Regions from separate parts of the Homo sapiens genome. Here all the other regions are linked to region 3. Evidence: fine-mapped expression QTL. A gene starts in region 3. Each other region holds a variant in brackets. All regions are shown on one strand. Distances are between the middles of the regions.

Region 1 (7,532 bases), 63 kb before region 3:
ATTGTCCACCCCACCTCCCCCCGCCATTTGCCCCCCTCCCAACTTTCTCTCCTCTCCTCCCCACTCACCCCCTCCCTCCCTATTTCTGTCTCCCTCTTGTCTCCCTTTTCCCCTTCCTGTCTCTCTTCCCCATCTTCCAGTGTATACTCAGGTGGCTTTATTATGGTATGGAGAGAGGATTAAGTAGAATTAAGAATAGTGACCTCAATCTAAGCTGGCTCCAGGAATTGTAGCCTCCTGTTGAACCATACACCTTGATGATTTTAGGCTTAAACGAGGAGGAAAAGGGAGTACTGGAAGAAATCTCCCTATACCTAGGGGTCCAGTAGTTTGACAAAAAGGAAGGAAATTAGAGGCAGAGCAGGTAAGTGTGAGTAGGAGTTAGAGTGCTGCGTTCAGGTTCTGGCTCAGCCACTCACAGTGCGGCCTGGTCAAGCATTGAGCTGTTCTCTGTCTTAGTTTCTCCATCTGTAGCATGGAGTGGCCATTCCTGCTGACAATTTGCCACCTGAGCCTGCTGTGAAATGAGTGGAGTGATATTTTTCTGACTCTTCCGGGGTCTTCTACCTCTGTCTGCCCTTCACACTTTGGTGTTCCTCATGTTTGATCCTTTTTGTTTCTTTCCTGTTTTCACCCTGTAGTCCCTTGCCATCATCTTCAGGATAGAGGCCCAACTCTGGGCCAGGGCTTCTGAGGCCCTCTGGGCCTGGCTGTCCATCTTCACTCCGTGTGTTCCATCCTCCAAGCTTCTCCTGCTCTCTCGTGCCCATGTGCCTCTGGATAACTGTCCCTTCTGCCTGAAATGTTTCCCCTTCACTCACACCCTGTCCACTAGGCCAGCATCTACTCATCCTTCAAGAGTCAGGCCACGCTTCACCTTCTCTGAGGGTCTTCCCTGAGTGGCCCCTCACACCCTGCCATGCTGCACTGGGTGCCGCTCTTCTGACCTTCATCAGCATCTGTACTCCGCTGGCTGGTTTACTTGTCTGTGAGTTCTTGAGTATGGGGACTGTCTTGTGGTCATTGCTATTCCCTAGCACTGTTCCTGGCAGTCAGGAAGTGTTTATTAAATATATGAATGGGGCCTTTTTTCCCTTTTCCTGACTTGCCTCAGCTCAGGAAAAATGTTAAGATAAAAACTTGCAGAACCTACAAACCACTTCCTAAAATGAAGAGCCTCTGAAAGTACTATTGTTAAATTGACCGACACAAGTGGCTTCCAGGTCAGGCTGCCTGTGATTTCTCCTCCCCACTCCTTCTGATCCTCCACTCCAAAGTGCTTTGCTGGGTTTCTTCTGTACTTCCATAGTGCTTCTCCTGTAGCACTTCTGCATCCTTCTGAGTATCACAGACGTACACCTCCCTTCCACACCAACCCCATGAGAACAGGAGCGACATAGAGCTTCTTCATCTTTTTGTACGCATAGTGGGTATCATGCACATAGTGGGTATCTAACAGGTAATTGTTAAATGAATGGAATATAAAGAAGGTAAACTTCTGGGTCAAACAAAACCATTATTCAGTTTTTTTCTCAGTGAAGTCCTTTCCCCTATGATTACCGTTGCTGTCTCACATGTGTAGAGTGCTTCTAACTTTTCAGATGGCTTTCCCGTCCTTTGTCTGACTTCATGCTTATGTCTGCGCAAGCAGTGCAGTCTTATGATCCCCCTTGGTAACTTACTAGAATTCACTCAGCTAGTACCTGGAAGAACTAGAACTAAAATGTGTCTCCTGAGTATTCTGTCCCCATGATCAGGAATATTAGAAGAGTAGCAGACCATTCCCAAGCTGATTGGATCACGGAGTTTCACTTTGCTAAGGTGTGTTGACACTAGCAGGTTGGTAGTGAATCACAGGGAGTTGACAGTCTTCACACATAAGTGATAGAGGAAGTCCTTGTGTCCTGCAGACCTCTAGGTGTTCTGTAACTGGCTCAGCTTCTTCCACCTATGGGGCCCCTGCCTAAGGCAGCCTCATCACTCATGTCCTCTGTGACTTTGGACACACCAAGCTTTTCTTCCTCTGTGGAGAGCATAGTAATGCCTTGAAGACAGGGGCCCTATAAAATGTCTGTGAGATTCTGTATGTGAGCTTGCTCTTATTTCAGGCGTTTAATGAGAGGAGAAGGATTTCTTCCAGATCTTGGAGCAGTCAGAAAGAGTCAAGTGTCTTGAGTCCCACAGCTACTTAGTCAGAGGTGTTATATGTATTATACTCTTTAAGGAAATCTGTCGGAGTAAGCTTTAGAGTCAGCTGTTAAACCTATTAGAATTGTTTTCCCAAACTCATGATTTTGGTGGCTAATCCATCAAATAGGGCCCAGTATAGTGTGATGCACATACATGGTGCTCAACAAATATTTGTTGATTTAATGCTTGTTCAACATTTATAATGTGCAAAAGTCTGTGCTAAATGTTGAGGAACATTTAAAAGACTTGCATGAGTCGATCTCTATCTTCAGCCGGTGTATGGAAAGTGCTAGGGATTCAAAAGGACAGCCGATCACTAAATGTCAGTATGGCATCATCAAGAAAGACTTGAAGCAGATGTAATTTTAACTGAACCTTGACTTAGCAAATACGTGCTGTTTCAGTGGGAGGGAGAGAAGGATCCAGGTAAGAAGCATGGCATGAAAAAGGTGTGTGGAGTCAGAATGCGTCAAGAGTGTTTGTGCGGACTGTCAGGAGGCCAGCTTGGAGGTGGTAAGTAGTGGTTTGGGTAGAGGCTGCATTGGGGAGAATTGGCACTCCACCTCAGGGCCACGTTATATAGTGCTTTCAGTGCCATGCTGAGGACTTGAAATTGAGCCTAGGCTTTTGGAAATTGAAGGCTTTTGAGCAGGGAAGTGGCATGGCCAAAGCAATGATTTAGTCAGATTATTTTGGCAGTGGCCTGCAGGATAACTCAGAAGAGAAAAAATGGAGCCAAGGATGCTAACTTGGACAATAGTTTCCTTTTTTTTTTTTTTTTTTTTTTAAACAAATCGGGGGGTCTCACTGTTGCCCAGGCTGGAGTGCAGTAGTGCAATTACAGCTCACCACAGTCTCAAACTCCTGGGCCCAGGCAATCCTTCTGCCTTAGCCTCCTGAGTGGCTGGGACTATAAGTGTTAGCCACCACACCTGGACTAGTTTCCACAATTTTTTGAACACAACTCACAGTTAGAAATACCTTTGATATCACAACTCACACACACACACACACACACACTTATACTTGAAATAAAAGTTTGACACAGTATGTGTGCA[A/G]TGCACTCTGATATTTTCTATTATGTTCTTGTTCATGGTTTTTCGTTTTTTGAGACAGGCTCTTGCCCTGTTGCCCAGGCTGGAGTGCAGTGGTGCCATCTCAGCTCACTGCAACCTCTACTTCCCGGGTTGAAGCGATTCTCGTGCCTCAGCCTCCCAGATAGCTGGGATTACAGGCATGCACCACCATTTTTTAGTAGAGACTGAGTTTCGCTATGTTAGCCAGGCTGGTTTCTAACCTCTGGATTCAAGTAATCCACCCGTCTTGGCCTCCCAAAGTGCTGGGATTACAAGCATGAGCCACCGCGGCCAGCCTTGTTTGTTTTTTTAAAGAATGACCCACCTCAGTTGACTTTTTTTTTCTTTTTTTCTTCCTGAGGTGAGTGCATATGATTTTTTAATTTCATGACTGATTTTGATCTATGTATATAATGGAAGACTGTGTAGCAGTTTAAATGACCTTTGAGTGATAGATGTTCTGCAAAGACCTCAAGTTTGAAAACCATCTGTCTAAGAGTATCATTACAAATACTCAGACGATAAGCTAACACCTTTGACTCCAGCAACTGAAGATAGGGTTACTTGTGTATTTGGTTGTTTCACTGGGTTAATAAAAAATAACAGAAGGGGCAGCTGTAAAGAACACTGGCTGAGTTCTTTATAAGAACTTATTCCATAGATTTGAAAACTGTCAATTGCTTTCCAGAAAAGAAAACCCAAGTGAACAAAAGCTCATGTAAAGATGTTTGGTCCTATTAGTAATCAGGAAAAACAGATTAAACCAACAATGAGATGCTGTTTCACAGCCATCAGACTGGCAGAAATTTTAAAGCCTGACAATGCCAAGTATCTGAGGGTGAGGAATAGTAGGAATTCACATACACTGCAGGAGGGGGTGTATATTGGAGATTTTGGAGTTGGAACAGTGGCTGTCCCCTACCCTAGAGAAACTCCCATACCTCCATGCAGCAGGGGACACATGCCAGGAGTGTGAGGGGCATCGTCATGTGCAGATGCCCAGCCTCTGGAGAATGGGGAAATAAATTGTGATGTCTTTACATGATGATATGTTATGGGCCGGGCGTGTTGGCTCACGCCTGTAATCCCAGCGCTTTGGGAGGCAGAGGCGGGCAGATCAGTTGAGGTCAGGAGTTCAAGACCAGCCTCACCAACATGGTGAAACCCCGTCTCTACTAAAAAATACAAAAATTAGCCGGGCATGGTGGTGGTGCATACCTGTAATCCCCGCTACTCAAGAGGCTGAGGCAGGAGAATCGTTTGAACCTGGGAGGTGGAGATTGCAGTGAGCTGAGATCATGCCACTGCACTCCAGCCTGGGCAACAAAGTGAGACTGTCTCAAAAAAAATGTATATATATGTAGTAGTTAAAATGGGTAAAATAGAGCTGTATGTACCAGTGTGGGCAAATCTCAAGAATGTAATGCTGAATGTAAAAAGCTAGCTTCAGAATGATACATTCAAATAAATAAGAGTGATACACTCAACATTGTAGGCTGGGCACGGTGGCTGACACCTGTAATCCCAACACTCTGGGAGGTCAAGGCAAGCAGATCACTTGAGGTCAGGAGTTCAAGACCAGCCTGGCCAACATGGTGAAACCCCATCTCTACTAAAAATACAAAGATTAGCCAGGCGTGGTGGTGCACGCCTGTAATCCAAGCTACTAGGGAGGCTGAGGCAGGAGAATCACTTCAGCCCAGGAGGCGGAGGTTGCAGTGAGCCAAGATCATGCCACTGCATTCCAGCCTGGGTGATAGAGCGAGACTCCATCTCAAAAAAAAAAAAAAAAAAAAAAAGAATGATACATTCAACATTGTACTATTTATGTAAACATTAGACCTATAAGGCAATACTATATTTTGCATATGGACTTAAACTTATACAGTAAAAGTATGGGAATAGTACTAAATTTAGAATAGTGGTTACTCTAGGATAACAAGGAGAGAAGGAAATGGAATCTCAGGGGCCAGTCGAGGTGGCTCATGCCTATAATCCCAGCACTTTGGGAGGCCAAGGCGGGAGGATCGCTTGAGTCCAGGAGATGGAGACTAACCTGGGGAGCGTAGTGAGACTGTCTCTACAAAAAGAAAATTAAAAATTAGCCAGGGGTAGTGGTGCAAGCCTGTAGTCCCAGCACTCAGCAGGCTGAGGCAGGTGGACTGCTGGAGCCCAGGAATTCAAGGTTGCGGCGAGCTATGATCACACCACTGCACCTCAGCCTGGATACAGAGGGAAACCCTGTCTCAAAAAAACTAAGTTAAAAAAGAAAAGAAAGAAATACAATCTCAGGGTGCGATACTCAGGGAGCCTGAACAGCATCTGTACTGTTTTGTTGCTTAAATAATAATATCTAAAGCAAGCATGGCTTCGTTAGAATTTGACAAAGCCAAGTGGTGGATACATGAGTATTTATTATATATTCCCTGTATTTTTTGTGTATTTACAATATTTCATATTTTTTTAATTTTTAAACCATTGCTGGGGCAGACCTCACTTTCCATAGCAAGAGAACGTTTGCCCGCGCCCCCCGCCCCTGCCCCACGGGATGGGGACGATGTAGGGAGGGGGCCTAGAAGTCAGTTTCCATCCAGCCATCTTCCTTCTACCTCTTGCTTTCTAGGGGCCAAACTTTCAGCAGAGAAGAGGAAAAAGGTAGTGTGAGAGCTCTTTATAATTGCTGATTGGTAAGAGACAGGAGCAAAGGTGAGATTAAAGATGGTACCTCAGAAGCTAAACAGCCGGTCTGGTGCTCTCAGAGTCTAAGCCACTGTCAGCCCATCGGAATGGAGATGAGGCCAGTAGAGGTGCTCTCCTTGCGGAGTCCGCAGGACAAGCCTTTCACCTCCAAATGCAAACCCATTTTCTACCCCTTCTTACCTTACAGACTAGAATGAGAATCGGTGATTACTTGTCTGTCAGATATTAGGATCTTCTTAAGGGGCTGCAAAGAAAATCCAAACTTGCCTCCTTGAGTTGCCTGCCTTCCTCTCTTAGGTGCTCTGTCGGCCTCCACACTTTTGTCAAAATCCTTTCACTATTTGGGGGGAAGTTGCCACTCAAATTTAGGCAGACTTATCACTTGGGCCTGGTGGTGGTGCATCACGGTATGGGACAGCTGTTTGCCCCCAAAACAAAAAAATAATTTCAGGTTTCCTAACCATTCTTGGGGGGTGAGTATACTTAATCTCTGTAACTTCTTACAAGTCACCCCTTCTGGACCTGGTTGGTCGTCGTCATCAAAATACCACTACTACCTTCGCAAAAAAACAGACTGCTTACTGTGTGTCAAGATCTGTTTTAAGCATTAAACTCGTTTAACCTTCATAGCGACCCTAGAAGATGAGTAAATTATTTTCCATCCTATTTTATAGATAAAGAGACGGAGACACAGGAAGGTGAGGTCACTTGCCCAGAGTCTCACAGCTGGTAATAGGCAGAGTGAGGTTTTGAACCCCAGCTGTCTGGCTCCAGGGCCCATCCCCTGATCTACTGCGCTGTTTCTCCTGTGAAGTGCAGGAGTGGACACTTCAAATAAACGGATGTATCAGCAGTGCCTGTGCAGAGTCTGGCAATAGTAGATGCTCAATAAGTGGTTGCTTTGATGAGATGATCGCCCAGCTCTCGTGTGACTTAACGTTGTGTGCTTCATTCTGTCTTTACTTTTCAGAGGTCAGCCTGTGGAGCGGTGGGGAAGGAGGGATCACAGCTGAGCTGGAAGATTGTTCTGGTCCAAGTCACAAACCGCCAAGTCACAGTCATCCCTTTTATTTTTAAACACACACATACCTCCTCGGACTGTTGGCGGGTCGGGGTCAATTTCTGTGTGTTCTGGTTTTGGATCAAGCTAATTTAGAGAAAGGACTGAGGTGGGGCTGGAGGCTGTGGTCATAGGCACTGGAAAGGACTGATTTCCAGCTCAGTTCATGTCCCTCTTTCCTGGGGTCTCCGCCTTGCTCAGGCTGAACTTTCCTTGGCCTTTGGCATTGTGGCCAGCTGGCCCGACACAGAGGATGGCATCCAACCAGCAGCTGTTCTGCCGGACCTAGATGGCTCTCGATAAGCCCTGCCCCGGCTCTGGCTCTCTGTTGTTTCTCTCCCACCGTTAAGGTGGTGGTGGCCTTGTGGGGCCTCAGGCCAGAGCAGGCAGCAACCCAAGGATAGAGTAACAGAAGGCCCCGGGGGAGGGGCTTGTCCTTCCAGCCTGCTGGAGCTGCTGCCTCTCGCCCACCTTCCTGCTCTTGCCGAGACAGTGACTCAGGCCCA
Region 2 (7,532 bases), 44 kb before region 3:
AGCTAATTTTTTTTTTTTGTATTTTTTATAGTAGAGACGGCGTTTCACCGTGTTAGCCAGGATGGTCTCGATCTCCCGACCTCGTGATTCACCCGCCTCGGCCTCCCAAAGTGCTGGGATTACAGGTGTGAGCCACCACGCCCGGCCTCACAGTTTTTCTTTAAAACTTTTTAAATGTGAAGGATTTTTTTAAAGTGTTCTAATAGGGCTTTTGAGCAGGTGAGTTGAAAAATAATCAGAACAGTATGATAGGTCTCTGTGATCATCAGTAACTGTGGTGAAAATACAAGGAAAGAGCTGTTCCGTCTGCGTGGTGTACATAACCTCTTATTGTGCCAGAGCACCCAGTTCAGCACGAACGTCCTCCCATTCACTTCCAGACCCTTAAGAACAATGAGCCCCTTGGAATTCTGTAGGACTTTGAGACTAGGTGTTTTCATCACATACTTATAACAAATTCATGTGAAAAGAGTATTGAACTGTGGGTAGCAGAGAGAAAACTGGGCTGGACACCAGGGGTGCTGGTTGCTTCTTCCTTGTTCTCTTGTGAGCCAGCAGAGTGACCCTGGGCTTGTCACTGAACCTTTCTGGATCTGCTTCCTCATCTACAAAAGGAGAGGGTTGAACTGGGGAAAAAATTTCTATGGTAACTTACAGTTCTAAAAATACCGTGATACTAAATTAAGGTTTAGAGGGAGGCTGTCACACCACAAATAATGGAATCTACGTTTCTGATTCTTGGTCCCTTGTCTACAGTACTAAACTCCAAGAATCGTTTTGAAGACCACTCTGAGACTTCTTTAGAATTCTCATCCTACTCCCCATATTCTTGGAGTGGAGATTCAGTTTAGAATTCCAGTTTTAGATAAGCTGAAGGGATTCCAACTCCTTTGTTTTATAGTTTAAGAAACTGGGCTCCAGAGAGATTGAGATTTGTTCAAATCACAAAATGAGTCGGAGGCAGAGGCCACGTTTTCTGATACCGGGTCGAGAGCGCTTTCAGCTGCAGCATGCTTCCCACAGAATACAGGCTGTCTGTCTGCAATGCCACTGGGACCTCATTTGCAATGTCTCCAGAGTGGTCCTTGCCACCAGGACCTCATTTGCACTGTCTCCAGAATGGTCCTTGAGGGCAATTGCTCACTGTCCAAAAACCATCCTGTCTGTCAGCTGTAATCCCTGAGAATGGGAAAAGTAACCAGGGTGTGGGGAAGGAACCCATCTCCCCGTGAACCTTTTCTGTTTAGGTCTGAGAAAGGAAGCAACAATTTCATTTTTTCTTTCCTTTTCATTTCCAGACCTTACCTTTCCTCCCTGGTTATTATGTAGTCAGAATTTATTTGTTTACAGAAGATGCGAATCAGCCAGCCCCCAAAGGGTTAACACTCCCAAATTATGGGGCTGGGTTAACAATAAACAGGATGTCCTCCAGAAATTAAATTTAAACCACTGTGACTCAGGCTGGCCCATCCCCTCCACTGGATCACTGTTTGGGGTCATTATCGGTGGTTAATTACACCCTTGGGTTTAGCAACAGTGTGTTGGTCAGTTTGGGCCAAAGGAAAGCAGGCTCAGGGAGAAGGGGGTGTGGAGGGAAGGGTGGGATGTGGGCCTGGTGGAGCGGGTCTGGTGCATTGTGGAAACGGGAGGTTTGAATGGAAGAGCCAAAAGGAGAGGGATGAGCATGGCTGGCTGAGAGCCCTCTGCCGGAGCTGATCGCAGGGATTCTTGACTCACTTCCTACCTGGGATCGGGAGTCTACCCTTTCCATAGCCATTGGGATGCACTTTCTAGCCTGGCCTCTTTTCTTCCTGGAGTTGGAGAATCATAGAATGCTCAGTGCCTCAAGGAAGCTCCTAAATTACCTAGTTTAATCTACTCGTTTTATGCAGCAGGAAATGGAGTCCCAGTGCAGCCGTCACCTGCCGAAGGGCAGCCTGCTCAGTGGAAGCGGAGGCCAGGCTAATGCTCAGGTTGAGACTCCTAGACCCATGATCCTC[C/A]TTCCGCTGTGCCATGCTGTAAAGTAGGGAATCTGAGGTGCAGCTCTTCATAGCAAGTCCAAGGCAGACTTGGGCTGGATTTCAGATTATTTTCCAAGTTAGCAGCTTTTTGATTTTGTGAGTTTTCCCAGGGAAATAATCCAGCCCGGCCAATCACTAATGCCTCTGTTATTTATTAACTCTCCCCAGCCTCCAAAGAAGATTTGCAGATCCAAAGTTTGCCCCTCTATAGAGAAGTAGCAAAGCACCTAATATAGACCATAATGATTCGTGATTTCAAGGATGATAGCTATTACAGTGAGTCTGTAATTTCTGAGTTTGCACCTCCTCAAGACACAAGGTTTTATTGTCATTCACAGGGTGTCTTCCCTTTCCTGCCATCCTCGCGGGTGTCTTCCCTTTCCTGCCATCCTCGCCTTTCCTCTCTTCCCCTTTCCTTTCCTTTCCTTTCCTTTCCTCCCCCTCCCCTTCCCCTTTCTTCCCTTCTGTTCCCTTCCTTTATCTCTTTAAAAGACAGGGTCTCCCTCTGTTGCCCAGGCTAGGGTGCAGTGGTATGATCATAATTCACTGCAGCCTCAAACTCCTGGGCTTAAGTGATCCTCCTGCTTCAGCCTCTCAAGTGACTGGGACTACAGGCATGTGCCACCACGCCCGGCTAATTTTTGGTGGTTGTTTTTTTGTGTTTTTTTTTTTGAGATAGGATCTTGCTATATTGCCCAGTCTAGTCTTGAACTCCTGGCTCAAGCAGTCCTCCACCTGGGCCTCCCAAAGTGCTGGGATTGCAGGTATGAGCTGCCATACCCAGCGGATTTTTTTTTTTTTTTTTGGAGATAGGGTCTTGCTCTGTCGCTTAGGCTAGAGAACAGTGGTGCAATTATAGGTCACTACAGCCTCAAACTCCTTGGCCTCACCTTTTCATTTTCTTTAAATGACAGACTATCAGTAGCAAAGATGTTCTGGGGCAGAGCAACCTGCATCTGACACTGTAGGTGGGAGGACCTATCTCTCTCTTAGAACCAAGCCCAGATGCCAATGGTTGTATGCCCACCAGGGCACATGGTCCAAGTAGCAAGCCATGGCCACGCTTCCTCGCCCTCCTGGGGGAAAGTGGCCTGTACTGTACTGATACTTTGAGCTGCATCCTTCCCCACTTCTCACAATATCTCTCTTTGTCTCTTTCTCTTATAGGATTCCTTTTAAGATTGGGCAGCCCAAGAAACAGATTGTGCCCAAAACAGTGAGTAACTCGATTGTTTTGCTGTGAGATTCAGTTCTGTATCACATGGCCTTTGCATAAGAATCAAAGCTTTGAATCAACACATCTTGGGGCTGGGAAGACAGCAACCTGGGCCTTCTTCCTGCTTATGCGGATCTAGAACCTCACATAGACTGAGGCTTAGAGGGGCCTCCTGTCCTGGGACACTTCCCCTAGGAAAGGTTAGCCTGGGCTCTTTATCATCCTTGGGCAGGGGGAATGGGTGGATTACAAAAATGTAGAGGAAGATATTGCTTTAGAACGGTCCACCTCTAGGGACTGGCTTGTGGTCTATACTTTTCCTAAGAGTGTTCCTGAAAGAGTGGCCCCCACCAAAGACACTGCCCAGGCATTTATTTCTGTTACCTCAGCTGCAGAAAACTCCAGGAAGCTTTTCCCAGTGGCCTCGGCCTGTTTGTGTCAACTTCCAAATGCATTCTTGGCCATGACCCAGAGTCACTCAGCAGGAAAGGAAGATTGAATCCCACCCCCCTTTAAGCCCACAGTTTTTATCCCTAGAAAGTTTTTATCTCCAGAATGGGAAAGGAAGAGAATCATAGATTCTTAGGAAGTTAGAGCTGGAAGCTCATAGAGACCATCTAGTCCAACCTCCTGATTTTTCCTGATGAAGAAAATGAGGCCCGTGGAAAGTTGCAATGACTTCCTCAAGTTATAAAAACCCCACACTGGCAAAGCTGGAGTTAGAACTCAGGCGTGAGCCCCTGGCTGATACTCTTTCCATTGCCTCATGCTTCCCTGGGCAGTGAAGCCCTCCCAGTGTTTTGGAATCCCGGTGCAAAATAGCCTTTTCAACCTCCTGACCCACAAATCTGAGTGGGTCTCTTGGTTTTAACATGGGAGACCACAACTGTAGAGCCTCTCTGATGTGACAGCTACAGGAAGTCCGGTGCTGTGCTGGCGGCAGAGGCCCTCGTCTGTCATCCCAGCCCCTGACGGTTCTCCTTGTCTTACTAGCTTCTCCCCTCCTTGGCAGAGCTCTCAAAAGTACAGGAAAGAGATTGCTTCAGTGTGGTGAGAAGTTTGGCACACATCTGACCAATGGCTCCATCTCTAGCAAATCCAGAGTAAGGTCACTTGAGAGGAAACAGGCCCAAGTTAAAAGCACCCTCACAGGGTCCAGTGGCTTACGCCTGTAATCCAACACTTTGGAAGGCCAACGTGGGGGCATCATTTCAAGCAAGAAGTTTGAGACCAGCCTGGGCAACAAAGAGAGACCCCGACTCTACCAAAAAATATGCACGCCTGTAGTCCCAGCTACTTGGGAGGCTAAAGCAGGAGGACTGCTTGAGCGCACGAGTTCGAGGCCACAGTGAGCTCTGATTGCACCACTGCACTCCACCCTAGGTGATAGACTGAGACCCTGTCTGTTAAAAAAAAAAGTTGGGGGGTGGGGCCTCTCTGCTTCATGCAGAGGCAGGGTGCTGACCAACTCAGCGCTGACCTCTCATGCAGAGGCTGACCATCTGTGGAGGCTCTCAGCTGAAGTCCAAAGAATCTGGGTGTGCATATGTTGGTCTCTAGCCGGCTGCAGGAAGTGGGAAGGTGTGGCTTTGAGTCTCCAGAGTTTAATCCATGACAGATCTGAAAGGGAAGTGGTTTCAAGAGGGTTCTTTTATTCTGAATGCTCACTACAAACAAAAACCCTCCCAGCACCCCAACCTTTATCAAAATGAACTTTGTTCTCCACAGAAAGTGTAGACAAACCAGCTGCTTTGCCAGTGTGTTGGTGGCAAGATCTCTGGCTCCGTTGATCTAAGGAGTGGCAAGGACTCGCAGTGCGGGCAGATGCACACAGGGCATCCCTCTTCCCTTCCTCGCATCTGTCTCGCTGGAGATGGAATTGTGGTCCTCTGATTATGGCATCTGCTCTCTGATAGACTGGGGGTCAGGTAGGGGTTAAGAAACTAGGTTTGGGAGGCTGGCAGCCTGGGTCCCCATCCTGGCCCTGCCACATGCTGTCTCTGACCTTGGGCAAGTTCCTTAACCTCTGGAGCCTTCATTTTCTCGTTTATAAAATCAGGATGATGACAGTACCTGTGTCACAGATGTTACTTTGAGGCTCACACAAGATAATACACTGAAGGCACCTAACACAGTGTCTGGCACAAAATAAGTCCCCAGTTAACTACATCACAGGAAGCTGGTTGATTTGACCTTCTTTATGAACCATCAGGGACTCAGCCTGTCCCAGGCAGCTAGATTTCCCAACGCAACAAAAGTCGGCTGGGCCTTTGATCTCTCACAAGGAATCACAGCTGAGCTACAGCTCGGAGTAGTTATTTGCTTCCCTGGCCTATACCCCTCCACTCCCCAGAGGCACTGAAGTAGAAGTAGTAAGACCCTGCCTCTTCAGTCTCATTCCCCACCCACCACCCCCTCCCGGCCCCCAAAACAGGCCTGGGCTGTGCAGTTGTCTCAGCATCTCTGGCAGCTGCCCTTGAACAGCAGTGACGCACTCTGTTGTTCTTGCCCAGGCACTTTCAGGGAGGGGAGCAGCTGTGGCTGCCTGGGTTATTGGAAGTCATGGAGCCCCTGTCATGGGAAGAAATGCTCACGTTATCTTCAGGGAGTTTCAGGAGGTTTTTGGCTCAAGGCACCCAACTGTCAGGCACAAAGAAAGCATTGTGTCCCTACCCTCACTGCTCTCCTGTGCCCAGGTTATTAACACAAATTCCATTATTGTCAAGGCTTTGGCTAGAATGGCTTGTTCCTGCTGGGGCTGACCATTAGAACTGAGATGGAGGAACAAAAGCTCCCCCGATCCCGATCCTAACCTTCCACCCAGTCCCCTCCCACTCCCCAGGTCCCATAAAGTGGCGGGAGCATCGTAGCGTAGGAAGAAGCCGCCACACCTTCCTCCATAACCTGGGAGGATGGAAGAGCTCTTCGAAGCTTTGCTCTTCGTGTCCCCCTGAAACAAGGGTTACTGTGAGTCTTGCACACAAGGAACATGCGCTCCAAGGTTCCTAGCCAGGTGGGTGCTCTGCAAAGTTAGGGCAAAGAGAGTCTGGCCACATGCAGCCTCTCCACTGGAGAAGGATTTTCATCTGCCAGGTGGCGGGGCCCTTAGCCTCGTTAATCCTGCTTAATCCTGCTAGAACATACCTACAGGGAGCCCACTTTCCACGCAGAGCATCCCTTGAAGGAGGGGCTTCCCAGAATGCTGAGGATTCTGGGCTTCTCAGACTCCGATCAGATGCACCTCAGCCCTGGGATCAGTGCCCCAGCCCTGCCTGCCAGTTTCCTTTTTCACTTCACCATGAGCATAAGTTTGGGTGGGAACTCAGCCTGTTCATTCACTTCATACTGAGTTCCCACTCTGTGCCAGGGCCTGACCTGTGCACTGCCAAAAGAGCAGGGAACAGCAAAACCCTTTCCTCCCACCGTGGGCCTTGGAGAATGAATGCAGGGGGTGGCCACGGGTAGTCGTCTGGGGCTTGGTTCTCCCTGAGCTAACCTCGCCAGCCTGGCCCAGCTTGCCCTGATCCCCTGATGGTCCGTGCACATGTGTTTATACTTGCATTGTTGACTGGGGTCCAATTGCCTTTTTGGCAAAGGCATCAAGCATTCAAAGATGTTCAGATCTTTTCTGTCTGGCTCTTTTCCTCGGAATGAGGCTCCAGTGTGTCCCTTTAGTCCCTTAGCCATTATCTGAGAGGCTAGAATTCTGGCAGTGTCCCCGTGCATCTTTCCCCAGTGGAGGAGAGAACTCTCGGACCAGTGAGCTAGAGAAGCAACCCACCCCGGCCGCTGGAAGCAGGGGAGGTGAAATGTGTCCAAACTCCTCTCAGGCTGTCAGATGGCCTTGAGCGGCACCAAGTAGAAAACGCGCTCCCACCCCTGACCTTCTCCTCAGCTTCATTGTGAGACCTCAAGTTCCTCAGCTTCCAGGATGATCAACCTAGCTGAAAACCTGAAGTCCCTCCCGGTACAAGTCCAAGCAGTCCCCAGCCAGGGAGACCAGGTGTTGTCTGACATCCCACACACATCGGCACACTTGGGGGATTGCAAAAGGGAGGAAGGGAGCCAAAGGCTAGGGCCCCGGGGTTCAGCTAACACTCAGCACCCCTCCCAAAGAGCGCCCCCTGTGTGTTCTGGATCTCTAGAGGGGTTTGGTTTGGGCCAAGTAGTGCTTAGTTTTAATTTTCTCTTTCTGGAAATAAATACTTTTAATAAGTAAAGATGCTGCTCAGCTGTCATATCCTGCAAGGTTAGAGGAAAGATGTGGGCCGTGCGCGGTGGCTCATGCCTGTAAT
Region 3 (7,532 bases):
CTGCGGCATCTTGGGGGCCTCTCAAGAAACCAAGGTTCCTGACCAGACTGCTTAGAGGAGAAAGATTCAGCCCTCGACTCAAGAGAGGAGGGCAGGCGTCAGCAGCTTTTCCTGGCAATGTGGAGAAGCAGCAAGAGGGCAGAGGGCGAGGAAGACTTCACAGCAAGTCCCCTCCACCCAGGGTCACCAGGTGCACCGAGAGGTCTCAGCCTACAGAAAGGTTTTTTGCTCGTTGCTTCTTAACCACTAATGATGGCATAAAGGTCTTCCGGTGGGGGCGGCACTGAGGCCTTTCAGGGAGGTCCCTGGACTCGATCCTGTGGAATGAAAAGAAGACATTAGGCTAGAAGGGGGAAATAAAACTAACAATGGCCCTAGAGTTGAGAGAACGTGGTTTATCTGCTGGTGGGTAGCTGGGTGTGGGCGCAGCCCGGGGCTGTTAAATGACTTGGTATTTCTTCCTCCTGGAGAACGATTCAATACAAGCCCCGAAGCATGATGGCCTTCACCCACTGTGAAATCCTTTGTGCTCCACCTTGCTCTCCCCACGAACCTGGAAGGTGGCCTAAATGTCAGCATTGAGGGTGAGGGGTTGCTGAGCTAGGGTAGGCAGATTTCCCACATTCTGGTCCTAGCTGTCACTGACTCACCGTGCGGCTTTGGAAAAGCAACTACCCCCAACCCCACCCAGAACCCTGCCTCCTTATCTGTAAATGGGGTGTTTTAACTACTGTTTCTTCTAGCAGCCCCTCCCAGACTGCCTCTCAAGTTTTGCGGGGACAATAATGACAACTGGCATGACAATCTCAGCATCCTGGCTTATCAGTCTCCTCTCCGTGCCCTAACCTGGGCTGGGCACGGGGCTCACCTGGGGTCAGAGCCATCAGGAGGGGCAGGGGGCTCAGGGTGGTGGTGGCTTCTCCGGCAGATCCGGTTGAGCAGGACCTTGACCTTGTCCCAGTGGGAGATATCCCGCTGAGCAGAGGATGAGGGGTCACCCAGAGCCCTCCCCACACTCAGACCCCCGACCAAGCTCCCAGAGACAGCTGTCGCCACAGCCAGGACAAGTCGCCTGCTCCAAACAGGAATCAATCCTGTCATTTCCCCAGAGTTGCTGGCCCCCAGGGTGCCCATGCATCCCCCACCTCCCCTCCCCCCACCCCAGCCCACCACCTGCCCCACATATACCTGTCCCCTACCTTGTGTCCCTGGGAGGATGGCAAGTGGTACGTTGGCTCCACTGGGGTTTCTGGCAGCCTGGGAGGGTTGGCACTGGGCACCTCCACCTTTGGGGGTGAAGCAGCCTTTGCTCCTTCAGAAAGACAGTCAGGTTGGCCAGGGCCAGAAGACACCCCATCAAGCTTCGGCTCAGAGGACCTGCTGGTGGGACCCCAGGCAGGCAGGACAAAGGGAGACACGATGGCCCCTCACCTGTGTGCTCTGTCTGGCTTAGCAGCTCCCATGGCCCCTGCCCCCGATTGCCTGGGGTGTGTAACGGGGACGGTAAAGGGGCTCGGGTCGACTCCTCCTCGCCGGGATCCTATGCACAGGAGAGACAGGTGATCAGGGCCTGGCTAGAGGGCTGAAGCTGCTCTGAGGGCAGCCATGGTTCCCAGGGTCCCATCTGTCCTCTCCCTCCCCCACTCGAATCTCACTCACCCCTGGGGGCCTCTGGATCCGCAGCTGCAGGTAGAGCTGCTGGAGCCTTGCCATCTGCTCCAGCACCAGGCACAGGTGTTCCAGATAGCGAAGACCCTGCCCGGGGAGGCAGGCCCAGGCTCCAGGCCCCAGGCCCCCCACCTGTGGGACATTGTGAGATAGGGGAGATTTCAGCCAGTAGGGCTCCTGCCCTACCCTAAGCAGCCAGGCTGGGCTCAGCCAGCAGATGGGAGCAGAGTGGGCCCCGAGGAGGAACACACGCAGCCGGCTTCCCCACTGCCCAGCGGGGCATAGTGCCAGGAAGGGCCCCCGTAGCTGCCCACCTCCTCTGCAGAGGTGGCCGTGCACAAATGGAACTGGGGTGCAGAAAGAACCTATGACACAACCCATCAATTAGGGGCAGGGAGTGCCCCACCCAGAGAGAGCTCCAGGGAGAACCAGAGGAGCTAGGCTGTCCATCCCACTCTTAAACCCAGCCTGAGAGTGAGCACTCACCGCCTCTTCTTCCAGGCCTGCCTCTAGGTCTGTGTCTGCCTCCATGGACTCCTGTTGCCCTGCTCCAAGGGGCACTTCACGCTCAGGCTTGCTTGCCAGCCGCAGGGAGCGGTGTTGTCCTGACAAGCTGGTGGGAGCTGTTGGGAGCCGGCGGGACCGCTCCAACACCTCCCCCAGCTTCTGGCTGGCCAGGAGTCGGCCTACCTGGGCGGGGGGCTCAGAACTCCCTGAGGATTCAAAGTCCAGGGAGTCCTGAGAAAGGCCCGGTAAGGCGGCCAGGGGGCTGTCCCCAACTGCCATCTCCACTCCTGAGTCCCGGGAGGCCAGTTTGAGAAAGAGTGCCTCCCTGCCGACACCTCTGAACTTGTCACCTCTCTCCCAGGATGAGCACCCGTGGGCAGCGTCGGGGATCCGTCTGTAGGTGCTGGTGACTCCAGGCACTATGCAGCCCCGTGCCAGGCCCTCGCCAGCCCCATCTGCATGGAGAGTCAGCGTCAGGCTGGGCAGGCCACCCCCAACACCCCCAGCATTCCTGAAGGCTGGCAGCACTGCCCCAGGGAGAAGTGTCCCGGAGCAGTGAGGAAGGGCGGTCACTGGACAGCCACGGGCAGCCCGGATATGGCCCCAGCTGTCTGGGAGATGTGTGGATGGGATTCCCTTCGCAACGGTTGTTAGCGACAGGGAACCCGTGCTCTGAGCTGTGTGGTAGGCAAAGCCCTGGCAGGCCACATCCATCAATCCCTTAGACGGCCTGCGCCTGCGCTTCCCACCTAGGATCAGCCCACGATCTCCCGAGTCAGAAGTAGGGAGCCACAGGCTCTTCCGCTGCTCCCCAAGCGGGAGTAGGACTGTATCCAGCTTCAGGGAGAGGGGAGAGGGTACAGAGAGGAAAGCCTGGGATCCAACCTGCTCTCTGGGGGCCCCTGCGGCATCAGGATGCCAGGTGAAGTCTCTCCTGCAGCTCACCGGGAGAGTGATAAAAATCACCGCTATAACCGATTTGGGCTTTTGTTGTAAGTGAGCAATAGTGAAGATTTTATGAAAAGTTTAAAATGAAAGAACTGAAGTGAAAGAAAGGGACGAAGGGGCAGCATTAGCACCCCCTCACTGTCACCTCCGCCAGGCCCTCTGGCGACGGGGCGTCCTGGCGGAATGAACGGTACGGGAAACAGGCTAGGGGGGCGGGGACGAGCTGCGGGGCACGCGGGAGCCGAATGCCAACCCAGGCCCCTCTGGGCAAGGAAGTGGGCCAGGAGGTCACTGGGTGGGAGAGGGGTCCGCAGCCACGGAGGGGGCTGGGGCGCGGGCGGATTCCCACATCCTCAGAAGGAGCGGGAAGGCGAGGGAAGCGGAGCCGGAGGAAGTGGGGCGGAGGCGGTGGCTGGTTTAACGCCTGGGCCCAAAGGGGTTCCAGCCTGCATGGCGTCCCCTGATGACCGCCCCTCCAGGGAGGCGGCGAGGGAGGCGCAGCGGCGCGGGCTCCGCCCGCGGGGTGCGCGGGGCTGGGCAAGAAACTGAGAGAGGGTGCCCGGCTTGGGGGCGGGAAGCGGCTCCGGGGCAGGGGGGAGCCCGGCCAGCCTGGGGGTGGGTGACTCACCCCGGCCGTCCACGGCGAAGGCGCGCCGCCGGCCCATCATGGCCCGCTCCCGGCCCCGGCCCCGGCCAATGCAGCCGCCCGAGGATCCCGGCCCGAGTCCCCGCGGAGCTCGGGCAGCTCAGGGAGCGCGTCCCGACCCAGCTGGGCGCGGCCCCCAGACACTCCCAGCGGGGCTGGGGGGGCGGGGAGCGGGGCTGGGGGGGCGGGGGGCGGGGCGGTGGGGGGCGTGGCCTAGGGGGAGGAGAGAGGAAGAGCGAGACGAGGAAGGGAGGGGCGAGGAGAGAGGGGAGGGGCGAGACGAGGGAGGGGAGGGGCGAGGCAAGGTAGGGGAGCGGCGAGAGGAGGGGAGGGGCGAGGGGAAGGGGGAGGGGCGAGGAGAAGGGGGCGAGGAGAAAGGGGCGGGGCAAGACGAGGGATGAGAGGAACGAGGCGAGGGAGGGGAAAGGAGAGGGAGGGGAGGGGCGAGGAGAGGGAGGGGAGGGGCGAGGAAGAGGAGGGCGAGGGGAGGGGAGAGGAGAGGGTGGGGAGGGGAGAGGGAGGGGAGAGGGGAGGGGCGAGGAGAGGGTGGGCAGAGGAGAGGGAGGGGAGAGGGGAGAGGGGAGGAAAGGAGAGGGGAGAGGGGAGGAGAGGAGAGGGGAGAGGGAAAGGGGAGAGGAGAGGGAGGGGAGGGGAGAGGAGAGGGAGGGGAGGGGAGAGGAGAGGGGAGGGGCGAGAGGAGGGAGGGGAGGGGCGAGAGGAGGGAAGGCAAGGGTGCCAGGTGGGGGGCGCAGGTGGCCGGGTCGCCAAGAACGAGGTCGAAGGCACGGACTGGGTGGCGCCCCCAACTGTGGCTGTGGCCAAAATAAGGGTCCCGATCAGCTGTTCTGCGAGGACCCGGCCCCCGCCTGGGGACGCCGTCTGGCTCGGGGCGCCGGTCCGCCCGGCCCCGCGGGTTCACACGCAGCGTCCGTCTTCCTGCCGCGGACTTAGAGCCGGGGCTGGCTGGAGGACCGGACAAGAGCCAGGAAGGAAATGGGAGCCCCACGTGCTGGCGGTGGGAAGAGCGCTGACCAGGACGCGGGCACCCGGCGCTCCCTAGCAGTGTGGCTTGGGGGCCAGTCTCTTGGCCGCTCGGAAACCTGGGCGATGGGAGGGGAAACGATCCTGCCCACCGGGAAATCTTTTACAACTGCAGAACGCGCGTGTGTCCTCAGCTAGATCTGAACCCCCTCCCGGTCCCCTGCCTCTTTCTCATCCCGGGCTCCCTAAAGCTGGGGACTGGGTAGGTCTCAAGGTCTGGAAAGATGCGAGCCAGCGGGGAGCCGCCTGGAGACTGGGCCAAAGTGTAAATGTCCCCCTGTTCCCACCTCACCCTGCCTTTGGCCCGTGGGATTCCACCCCTCAGTCCCCAACCTAAAAGGAGCCCAAGAAGCTACTGAAGATGAGAGAGAGCCTGGTGACCAGACTGGGGCTGGTGTCCTCTAAAGAAGGCACCTCCTCCAGAGGGAGGGGGCAGGGCTGGAAAAATCCCAGCAGGACCCAAATCCCCCGGAGGCAGATAAGGGAGCTGGAGGACGTGCAGACTAGCACCTGGACCTCTAGGGGAGGGGAGAGGCTGGAGCCAGAGCCACTGGAAGGAAGTGGCTGTTTACCGGGAGGGGTAAGACAGTCTGTGCATCCCCTTCCCTTTGCTCCTTTCTGGAACCAGTCCCCAAACACCCACTGCAGGAGCCTTTATCAGAGAGCCACAAACTATCAGATTTTAAAACTTTATAAAATGGGGAAACTGAGGCCCACAGCCAATCTCTGCGCAGGCCAGCCGAATGACAGCCAAGTGCCAGAATTGCTGGCCATGTCTCAACAGAGTCACATTCAAGCCCAGGCCCTTCCCTGCTAGCCATGGGTCCTCTGGGTTGCCCCCACCCTGCCCAGTCCTCCTAGACAGTACCCATTCCGCTTCTCACAGGCAGAGAGAGAACCAGAGTGCTGGGTCTCCAGGAACTGCCTTATGCAAGACCAAGAAGATGTGTGGAATCACACCCCGGCCGTGCCAGAGCCCTGCCAGCCCTCCCTGGGTAGGAGGGAGCCCAGACTCCCTCCAAAGTAAGAGGGTGGGGGAGGGAGCCTTTGCCAGATCGCGCCCTGAATTTGGAGAATGTGGGGCGGGATTCCAAACAGTCTCTGTGGTGACTCTGGGACAGGAATGCATCTGGAAACAGGAAGCCCAGCCAGCAGGAATGCAGTGTCTCAGCACAATGCTTTGTGTGTGACTCAAAAGAACCTCCACACACACACCCCAACACACACTCCCCTCCAGGCCATGGCGCACCCCTCCTCCCCACCACCGCCATGCAGATGCGTCCTGGCCCAGGACCAGCTCAGAGGAACCTGAGCCCTGGCGGGCACGGGGGCAGGATCTGACCCAACACCCAAAGTAGGGGGATGCCCCCTTCCTGTGGCAGCCGCAGTCCCAAGCCTAGAGCCAGGCCAGGGCTCTCTGAGTGATGCTTGAAGGAATGGGAGGGGCAGCCCGTCCATGCACTCCTGACAAGGTAAACCACTGCCATGAGTTCCTGAGACAGACAGTGTCCTGAGCAGGGTCAGCCCTCAGGCTGCCCAGTGGCCCCTGCACTTCCCATGGGGAAGTCCTGGCTTCAGGAAGTGGGTTTCCTGCAAGCTCAGCTGGAGCTAGTACCCGTGGGAGGAAGCACAAAGCTGAGAGCCTACAGAGCGCTGGGGAGGGCTGTGGTGACCTCCAGTTGTGACCAGAGGTGACCAGAGCTGTGCCTGGAAGGCTGCCTCTGATGACAGAGGGACAAACTCTGCCCCCCACAAGCCAGAAACCTGGGAGGCAGGCTGTAGATCCATTCCTTACTAGCTAGGAGTACTTGGACCATTTACTGAACCTCCTGGTCCTCGGTTTCCTCGTCTGCAGAGAGGATGGTAACAGTACCTATCTCGGGTTGTGAGGATTAAGTGAGTTAAAGCATTGGAAGTATCCCTAGCACATCAAAAGCACCCCCAGAGCTTAGCCATTATGACTGTCTAGCTGTGCAGCTTTGGAAAAGTCACTTTCCCTTCTCTAACCAAAGGGGGTTGTACCAGATGCTCCTTTGGGCCACTTCTAACTCTAATCTGTCACTTCAGTTAATCTCCTCAGTGCAGGAAGGGAAGAGGGCACTGCACTGGACAAAGTCCGGGAACATAGACGGGCGGCGTGCGGCAGAGGGAGTGGGAGCACGCAGCTAGCTGGCTTAGGTTGGGGACAAGATCAGAGGTAAAAGACCAAAAACTGCCTGTCCCCAGCCTCCTCTGCTGACCAACTCATAACTCCGTTCTTCCAGGGGAGTTTGCTCCCGAGCCGGGCTGATTGTGTGGCTGCAGAGAACCCTGGTGCTGAAACCCTCAGGACCCCTGGGAGGAGAGATGGCTGCCACACCAAAGAACAAGAGCCAGAGGGGGATTTGAGCTGGAACCTACAAAGCCCTCAGAAGGCATTCGATGCCTCACTGGAATGCCCATCATTTCACATGTCCCCAGTCCCCACTTATCCCCCTCCACTCCTATGACACTGCTGGCCCAGCATGGCGTGCTACATACAGGTGGGAATCTGTCCATATCAATAATCCAAACCATCTTTTCCAACCTGTCACTTCTCTGCTTAAAACCTTCCAAGTGTTCCCAGAGGCTGGGCAAGGTTAGCTCACGCTTGTAATCCCAACACTTTGGAAAGCCAAGGTGGGAGGATGGCTTGGGGCCCGAAGTTCGAGACCAGCCTGGGCAACATAGTGAGACCCCATCT
Region 4 (7,532 bases), 53 kb before region 3:
GTAGACATGGTGACTGGTTTCAGAGTAAATGTGCCAGGAAGATAAAATGAAACAGAGAATCCCATTTACAGTATAACCAAAAATATAAAACTTCATGGAATGAACCTAAGACATGTATAGAGCTAAAACTTCACATGTGTTATTTTGGGATCTTAATATTTAACGAAATAAATGTAGAGGAGATGGATATGAAAAAAAAAAAAAAAACCCTTAAGACCAAGGGAGATAAAAAGGCTTGAATGAATGAAAAGAAATATGGCCCTGAATGAGCAAACCAAAAATAGGATCTTCAAAAGTTAATCTATAAATATATTGCACTTCTGGTAATATCCTTATCAGGGGTTTTTAGGTGTGGGGGTGAGAGCACACAGCTAGTGAAATTTATCTTGAATAATTAAAACAGCCAAGAAATTACCTGGAAAAAAATTTTTAATGAGAAGGGATTTGCTTTGCTAAGTATCAGGAACTTTTATACATCTAAATAAATCTGTGTTATTGGCAAAAGGGTAGATTACTCTGTGGTATGGAATAGTAGATGCATTTAATGCTGATAAAATAACTTTTCAAAGGTGGAATTTTTAAAAACTATGTTAAAACAATGGACTAGTCATACACTCAAACTCTAAATGCAGCAAAGATTTAAATATAAAAAATAAACCACTAAAATTCACGTGGAAATGCAAGGGACACACAATAGTCAAAATGATCTTGACAAAGAACAAAGCTGGAGAACTCACACTCCCCAGTCTTAATACTACAAAGCTACAGTAATGAAGGTTGTGTGGTGCTGTTATCAAGATGGACATGTAGATGAATGGAATAGAATTGAAATAAACCCTTACATATATGGACAATTGATTTGTAACAAAGATGCCAGAACAGTTCAGCGGAAAAAGAATAATCTTCAACAAACAGTGCTGGGACAAATGGATAGCCACTTGCCAAGGAATGAAGTTGGACCCCTACCTCACACCATATTTAAAAATTAACTCAAAATGGATCAATGACCTAAATGTAAGAGCTAAACTATAAAACTCTTAGAAGAAAAGACAAGAGTAAATCTTCATGACCTTGGATTTGTCAAAGGATTCTTACATATGACACCAAAAGCATGAACAACAAAAGAAAAAACAGATAAATTGGACTTCATCAAAATTTAAAACTTTCTGCTTCAAAGGACACCATTAAGAAAGTGGAAACCCAGCCCATGGATGAGAGAAAATATTTCTGATTATGGGCTAATACCCAGAATATATAAAGAACTCTTACAACTCAACAACAATAATAATAAAAGTTTTAGAATGAGCAAAGGATTTGAATAGATGTTTCTCCAAAGATATACAAATGAACACATGAAAAGACGCTTAACGTCATTAGTCATTAGAGAAATGCACATCAGAAATACTACCTCATACCCACTAGGATGGCTAAAATGAAAAAGACAGTGTTGGCAAGGATGTGGAGAAATTGGAACCCTTATATACCACTGGTGGGAATGTAAAATGATACAATTACTTTGGAAAACAGTCTGGCACATCCTCAAAAGGTTAAACATAGAGTGACCATATGACCCAGCAGTTTTGCTCCTAGATATATGCCCAAGAGAAGTAACATATCCACACAAAATCTTGAACATAAATGTTTGTCACAGCATTCATTAATACCCAAAAAGGGAAAACAACCCAATTGTCCATCAAATGATAAGTGGATAAACAAAATATAAATCCATACACTGAACTAGTATTCAGTGATTAAAAAAATAAAAGGATGAAGTACTGATATATGCTATGACATGGATGACCTTCAAAAACATTTTGCTAAGTGAAGGAGGCTGACACAAAAGGCCACATACAAATATAATTCTACTTCTGTGCAATGTCCAGAAAAGGCAAATCCATAAAGAAGGCAAAGTAATGGTTGCCAGGGCTGGAGGAGGGGAGTTGTTTGCTAATAGGTGTGGGGTTTCTTTTTGGTGTGATGAAAATGTTCTGAAATTAGATAGCAGTGATTTTTGCACAATTCTGGGAATATACTAAAAACCCCAAATTGTACACTTTAAAAGGGTGAATGTTATGGTATGTTATTTAAAAATAAACCAGATTCTGAGTAAAGATGACAGATTGAATACATACATCTAATTTATCTCCCTCACAAATCCTACAAAAAGCACAGTAAAGCAGTTTTTTAAGGCATAAATCCATAGTTCAGGGAGAATAGAAGAGACATCAACAACAAAATTTGGGAATTAGGGTGCAGTTACATGAGGTAACTGACTTAGTTCCAAGAAAGTCAAGTCCCAAACTGGCGTTTGAGAAAACCAAGAGCCATCCCACCTTACATCCCAGAATTCTCAAAGGTTTGGGAGTTGGTACTAAGTACCTCTAGAAGTTAGGTGAAGCCAAGGGCTGAGATCAGGGTGATTGGTTGAAAACTATGAATAGTTTAGAGCCCTAACATCTCCCTAACTGCTTATCACTGGGAGACTGTCCCCACCCCACCCCACCCTAGCAGAAGAATGAAGAGTCCTACACCCCAACCCCCACCTCCAAAGAATTCTGTACCAGGGGACACAAAGGTGGATTTAAGGTGTGAAACTTACAAAGCTTCAGCCTCAGGGTCCCAACTTAAATGGACCTTTCCCAAGACCCTGGAAGGAACCCTAGGCATGCCTATGTTGTGGTAAACTGAAACATAAAGTGTTTACATTGCAGCGAGTTAGGAAAACCTCTGTCTTCATTCCTGCTTTTACTTCTTCATACTATCCCTCATGTCAGGCAATCCTGGGGTAGCCCAGGCTTTTTTGGGGGATGGAACTAAGGAAGGGTGAATTGGGAGTATACTGTTTTAACTGTACGTTGTAAAGACATCTTTGGAAAATGTTAGTAAAACAAGAAATCACAGGCTCCTGAGTTGGAAATGTGTAACGGTTACCTTTTGTGGTCAATTTTAAATTTACTTAAAAACTAGAGAGAAAATTGGATTTAAAAATAATGGAACACAAAAATGATAAGGTGAGTGCTTAAATATGTAGAAATCATTCTGAAATATAGCAAAGCATAACAAAACATTTTCCAATTGTACCAAAAGTGAGTAATCCATTAAGAGAACGAGATCCATTTTAAATAGGAGTGATGATTGTTAGAAAACTCAGTTAATGAAGAAGAGGAGCAAATCAGCGGAACACACTGATAAAACATTTAAATTTCTGGCGGATTTAACATGAAAAACATAACAAAGATAACAAAATTCAAAATACGCCCTCCTTCAAAGACAGACATTAATGACAAACTGGTCACTGTCATTAATTCAAAGAACACTTAAGATTAGTCACTGTACAAGAAACCTTGAAATGTGCCCTGACATCTTAGTTTATTTGCAGAGGAAACATGAGATTTTTCTAAATTTTACAACAATCCTAAAATTTGGATATTACCAGTAAGCTGAAAAAGGCTCTTCTAAACCATCAGTAGTAGAAAAATTTCGAACAACCATACCAGAGGAAAGAGGGAATTACCTTTTTTACTCTAAGAAAATGATGCTACCAACTCTGCATCACATGAAGAGGCAACCAAACACTAAGCAGCCCAAAAATGTAGGGAGACAAAGATAGAGGTGTGTTAGGCAGATGATTCATAAAAATACTAGATTATTTCCTGATGTTTGTGTCATTTATTAGCTTTTAAAACTTCGCATTTGTTTTGCTCTTTTCTCTGCCTAAATATTCACTTTCATGCCTATTTGTATATTTGTAATTTTCTTGAAATGGGGCATACAAAATTGTATAAACTTCAAACCCGCCTCTGAGAGGGCAGCCAGCACAGCTGAGGGTGGGACTGCCCTAGTGAAGTCGGGAGGATGAAGTGAACGCACACCCTCAGAGTGCCAAGGCACACCCCTTCCCCTCCCCACCACACATGCGCACATGCACACATGTGTACACATACATGCACACGCAGGCTCTTCCATTGCCGAGTTCCCAGAATGGCAGAAGGTTGGAAGAATCTTCTCTAAGGAATTTTACCTGCCCAAGAGAAAAGAGTAGAAAGATAGTGACATCAGGGAGTTCCCCACAAAACTGTTCAGCCAGTTTGCAGATTGTCCTACCCAGTAGATAAACATGGTTCGTGTGCTCAGAGCTTCTTGTCAGCTCTTTTTGTCTCCCAGTCATAGATGAGAGTAGGCAACCAAGAATTACCACACATCCAAGGAAAGCACTTAGTATGGAAAATAAAGACTAAACAAAAAGAAAAAAAGCAACTTGGAGGAAAACTGAAACTATAAAGGGAAGAAGAAACTTTTTAATTAAAGCTGTTGTTAAGATCCTCAGAGAGATAAGGCATCCATGAAATAAAAATAAGATACCATTTTAAAAGGACATCCTGAAAATTTAAAAGAGCTCTTAGAAATTAAAAATCTGATAGCAGAAATGAAAAAAAAAAAAAACTTGGTAGAAGCGTTAGAAGATGAAATTGAGAAACAGAAATTAGAGGACCAGCCAAGGAGGGTCAGCATCGAAATTGTAAGTTTCAGAAGTAAGAAACAGAAAACAAGAAATCAACAACAAAATTTTTAAAATCTCAGAACCGAAGATTATAAATTGCCAAATTGAAACAGTCCTGTGAGTACCCACCACAGTGGATGAAAATAGACCCACATTGTTGTAAAATTATACAACACCGTGACAAACATATATTCCTATAAGATTGTGTAAGAAAATAAAAAACAGGTTATATACAAAGGATGGGAATCAGAGTGGCTTCAGACTTTCCCACAGCAGCAGTACTGGGAAGTTAGAAGACAGGGGAGCAATGCCTTTGAAATTCTGGCAGAAATTATGTCCAGCCTTTAATTCTATGCCCAAATTAGCCTGCAGGTAGAAGAACAAGGTTTTAGGATGTGCAGTCTCAAAAGTGACCTCCCACATACTTTGTTCCCACCAAAATAAGGGGTAAATGAAGAAAGAGGAGGATCAGGGAAAAATCATGAAAGAGAAGTCAAAGGAATCCCAGAAAGATTGGTGAAGGGACAGCTGGTGCTGAGAGCCTCACGGCTGGGGAGCAGGCAGCCAGTCCAGGTTGGAGCGAGGCAGCAGTTGCAGGGCAGACTGTCCGGAAGATGCAAAGGAGAGAACACCTGATAACGATGAATGTGTTGAAACCAGAGTTAGACCACAGATTGAATTGGGGATAAGTACGTAGACAAGCAAATGAAAGAAAAGTGACAATTACCAATTTTAGGGAAAGTTAAAAAAAAAGTATGCATGTTATTTATGTATTACTGCTGCGTGACACATTATCCCACAACTTAGTGGCTGGAAACAAATAGTTTCTGTTGGTCAGG[A/C]ATTTGGGAGTGGCATAGCTGGAGCTTTGACTTGGAAACTCTTACGAGTTTGTGACTCAGTACATCGGCTACAACTGCTATGCCCTAAAGCTTTGACTGAGGCTGAACAATCTGCTGGCTCCCAAGGGCAGGATGGAAGAAAACTCACAATATCCTCCTAATAGTTTACTTAATATTGAGCTAACCAAGTTATTATACTGTAACTATATTGAGAAGAAGAGCTGCAAGTGTGGCTTCATGAAATAGCGATGGGTACCCAAAAATATTTTGTTTGTTTAATTTTAAATCTTCATCTTCCGAAGTAAAAAGTCAATAGCTAAAGTAGATTTTTAGTGCCTAAAAACCTAACGATCTAGAGGTAGCAGTATAAGCATTTATCTTTAGATGTGCAAAGGTAAATACTAGAAACTCAGTTGAGTTGAAAGTGGTTGTTTCTGGCAAATGAGATTAGGGAGTCCTGGGAACTAACGTTTTACTTAAGAAATCTTGTTGCCTTATTAGACTGTGCACACTATAACTTTGATACTAATGATAGAATTTAGATTAACAAAAGGAAGCCATAAAAGTAATAAAGTAAATATAGGTAAATAGTTGCAAGTTGATGGAGTGGAGGAAGCAGGTCATCCTCAGTTTGATACCAAAAGAAGAACTCACAAAAGGCGGATTTAGTAGATTTGATTTCACACTAATCAAAAGCTTCTGTACATTAAACACAAGCATGTACAAAAGTGAAAGGCAAACACTAATCCAAGAAAAAAATCCTGATATACAAACCAAAGTGTGGTTAGTAAAATGTAAACTGTTTCAATCTTTTCAAAAATGTTAAATGTTTCAATCTGTCTCTAGGGCAGTTTGTCAAAATGTGTCAAAGCCTTGAACACAGTATACAGAATTGATCCTGTATGACTCTTAGTGCACACCAAGATTTACCTATTGGAGTTTTTGTTCATAATAGAAGAAAAATTTGAAACGGTTGCAATGACCAGCAGTAAGTGATGAGGTTACAGAAATAAAACGAGTGGTACATTTCCATTATATACCTGAACCACTCATTTTACTTCCGTAGCTCTTAAAAATCAGGAGAGTGAAAATGATATATTCTCATATAAAACCATTCATGATATTTCTTTTACTTATTAATTTAAAAATTATATAAAATTTACATATGCACATGCACACACACATGTACACACTGTGATTCAGGATATTACTGTTAATTTTTTCCTTTGGGGGTGTGTGTGTGTGTGTGTGTGTGTGTGTGTGTGTGTGTGTGTGTGTTGTCCTTTGCGTTTTTCTATCTCTTCCAGGTTTTTAACACTGATCAGGTGCTATTTTTGTAGTCAAGAAAAAAACAAGGGTGTTTTTTTGTTTGTTTGTTTTTGTTTTTGTTTTTGGTTTATTTGAAAGAAAAATGTGGAAAGTGCAAAGAAGAAAACAGTAATCATATTCTCACCACCCAGAATTAGCCACTACCAACATTTGGCATATTTGCTTCAGTTTTTCTTACTGTAAATTTAAAAAATATAAATAGCAACACTGAAACATTAACCTTGGCCATCTTTTAGATGCGGAATCGTGGCTGGGTTTTTCCCTCTCCTTTTCCTCCCTTATACCCCCACCCACCCCATCCCCTTTTATTTCTCAAGTGTTCTGCAATGAGCACGTTTTTCTGTAATAGTTGTTTTAAAGTTACTGTTTCTCGTGTGAATACTTTACTTTTTAAGGAGATAAACTGTAATTAACTGTAAAGGGTAGAATTTTTTAAATGCCAAATAAGTCTTTGACGTTTAGAAGAAGGTGAGAAGTTTTCCTGGGAGCAGAGAAAGCATTCCATATAGGTGGGGTAGCCATTTGTCCTGGTTGCCCTGGGCAGTCCAAGTTGTCCTGATGACGTGTACTCCAAAATGTCCCAGTTTGGGACAGGAAATTATAAGGAGTCTAGATTTGGGGGATTAATGAACAGCCACTTGGCTGAATCATGGCAGTTGTACTGAGTGAATAGGAAAAGTAAGGTTGAGAACATATTACAGAAGCACATTGAATACTAATGTAAGTTCCTCCACTGATTCTAGGGCTGAGGCAGGAAATGTACAAGATGCACTTGGTACATGTCGTAGAGCTGGAAAGTAAGGAAATACACACACACACTTACATACATACATACATACATACATACATACATACATACATAC

The links. PIP is the estimated chance that this variant, and not a neighbour inherited with it, causes the effect.
Region 1: its variant is the best candidate, but not a certain one, in a credible set for the expression of C8orf58 in blood mononuclear cells (TOPMed, PIP 0.81).
Region 2: its variant is the best candidate, but not a certain one, in a credible set for the expression of C8orf58 in whole blood (TOPMed, PIP 0.53).
Region 4: its variant is the best candidate, but not a certain one, in a credible set for the expression of C8orf58 in whole blood (INTERVAL, PIP 0.56).

Annotation. Positions count from the first base shown.
Region 1 is chr8:22,658,886-22,666,417 of GRCh38, reverse strand. The region is part of intron 1 of BIN3 (bridging integrator 3); the gene reads left to right. Among named protein-coding and RNA genes, the nearest start is that of BIN3, 6.5 kb to the left of the region's middle. RefSeq lists enhancers at 7,526-7,532, 7,272-7,532. The variant A/G (reference allele first, on the strand shown) is at 3,249.
Region 2 is chr8:22,640,460-22,647,991 of GRCh38, reverse strand. It overlaps BIN3 (bridging integrator 3), which reads left to right. Exons shown (of 9, transcript NM_018688.6): 2 at 3,189-3,237. BIN3-IT1 (BIN3 intronic transcript 1) reads left to right here and starts at 5,783. Exons shown (of 1, transcript NR_027715.1): 1 at 5,783-7,532. The variant C/A (reference allele first, on the strand shown) is at 2,001.
Region 3 is chr8:22,595,980-22,603,511 of GRCh38, reverse strand. C8orf58 (chromosome 8 open reading frame 58) reads right to left here and starts at 3,913. Exons shown (of 7, transcript NM_001013842.3): 1 at 3,752-3,913; 2 at 2,155-2,630; 3 at 1,660-1,800; 4 at 1,432-1,540; 5 at 1,200-1,312; 6 at 869-975; 7 at 1-317. The coding sequence starts at 3,791. The coding sequence ends at 206. It overlaps LOC107986876 (a long non-coding RNA gene), which reads left to right. Exons shown (of 1, transcript NR_160769.1): 1 at 1-379. It also overlaps a transcript of PDLIM2 not described here. RefSeq lists enhancers at 1,349-2,226, 4,915-5,662, 5,663-6,410 and silencers at 3,514-3,973, 4,004-4,103, 4,469-4,528.
Region 4 is chr8:22,648,899-22,656,430 of GRCh38, reverse strand. All of the region lies in intron 1 of BIN3 (bridging integrator 3), which reads left to right. Among named protein-coding and RNA genes, the nearest start is that of BIN3-IT1, 10 kb to the right of the region's middle. The variant A/C (reference allele first, on the strand shown) is at 5,341.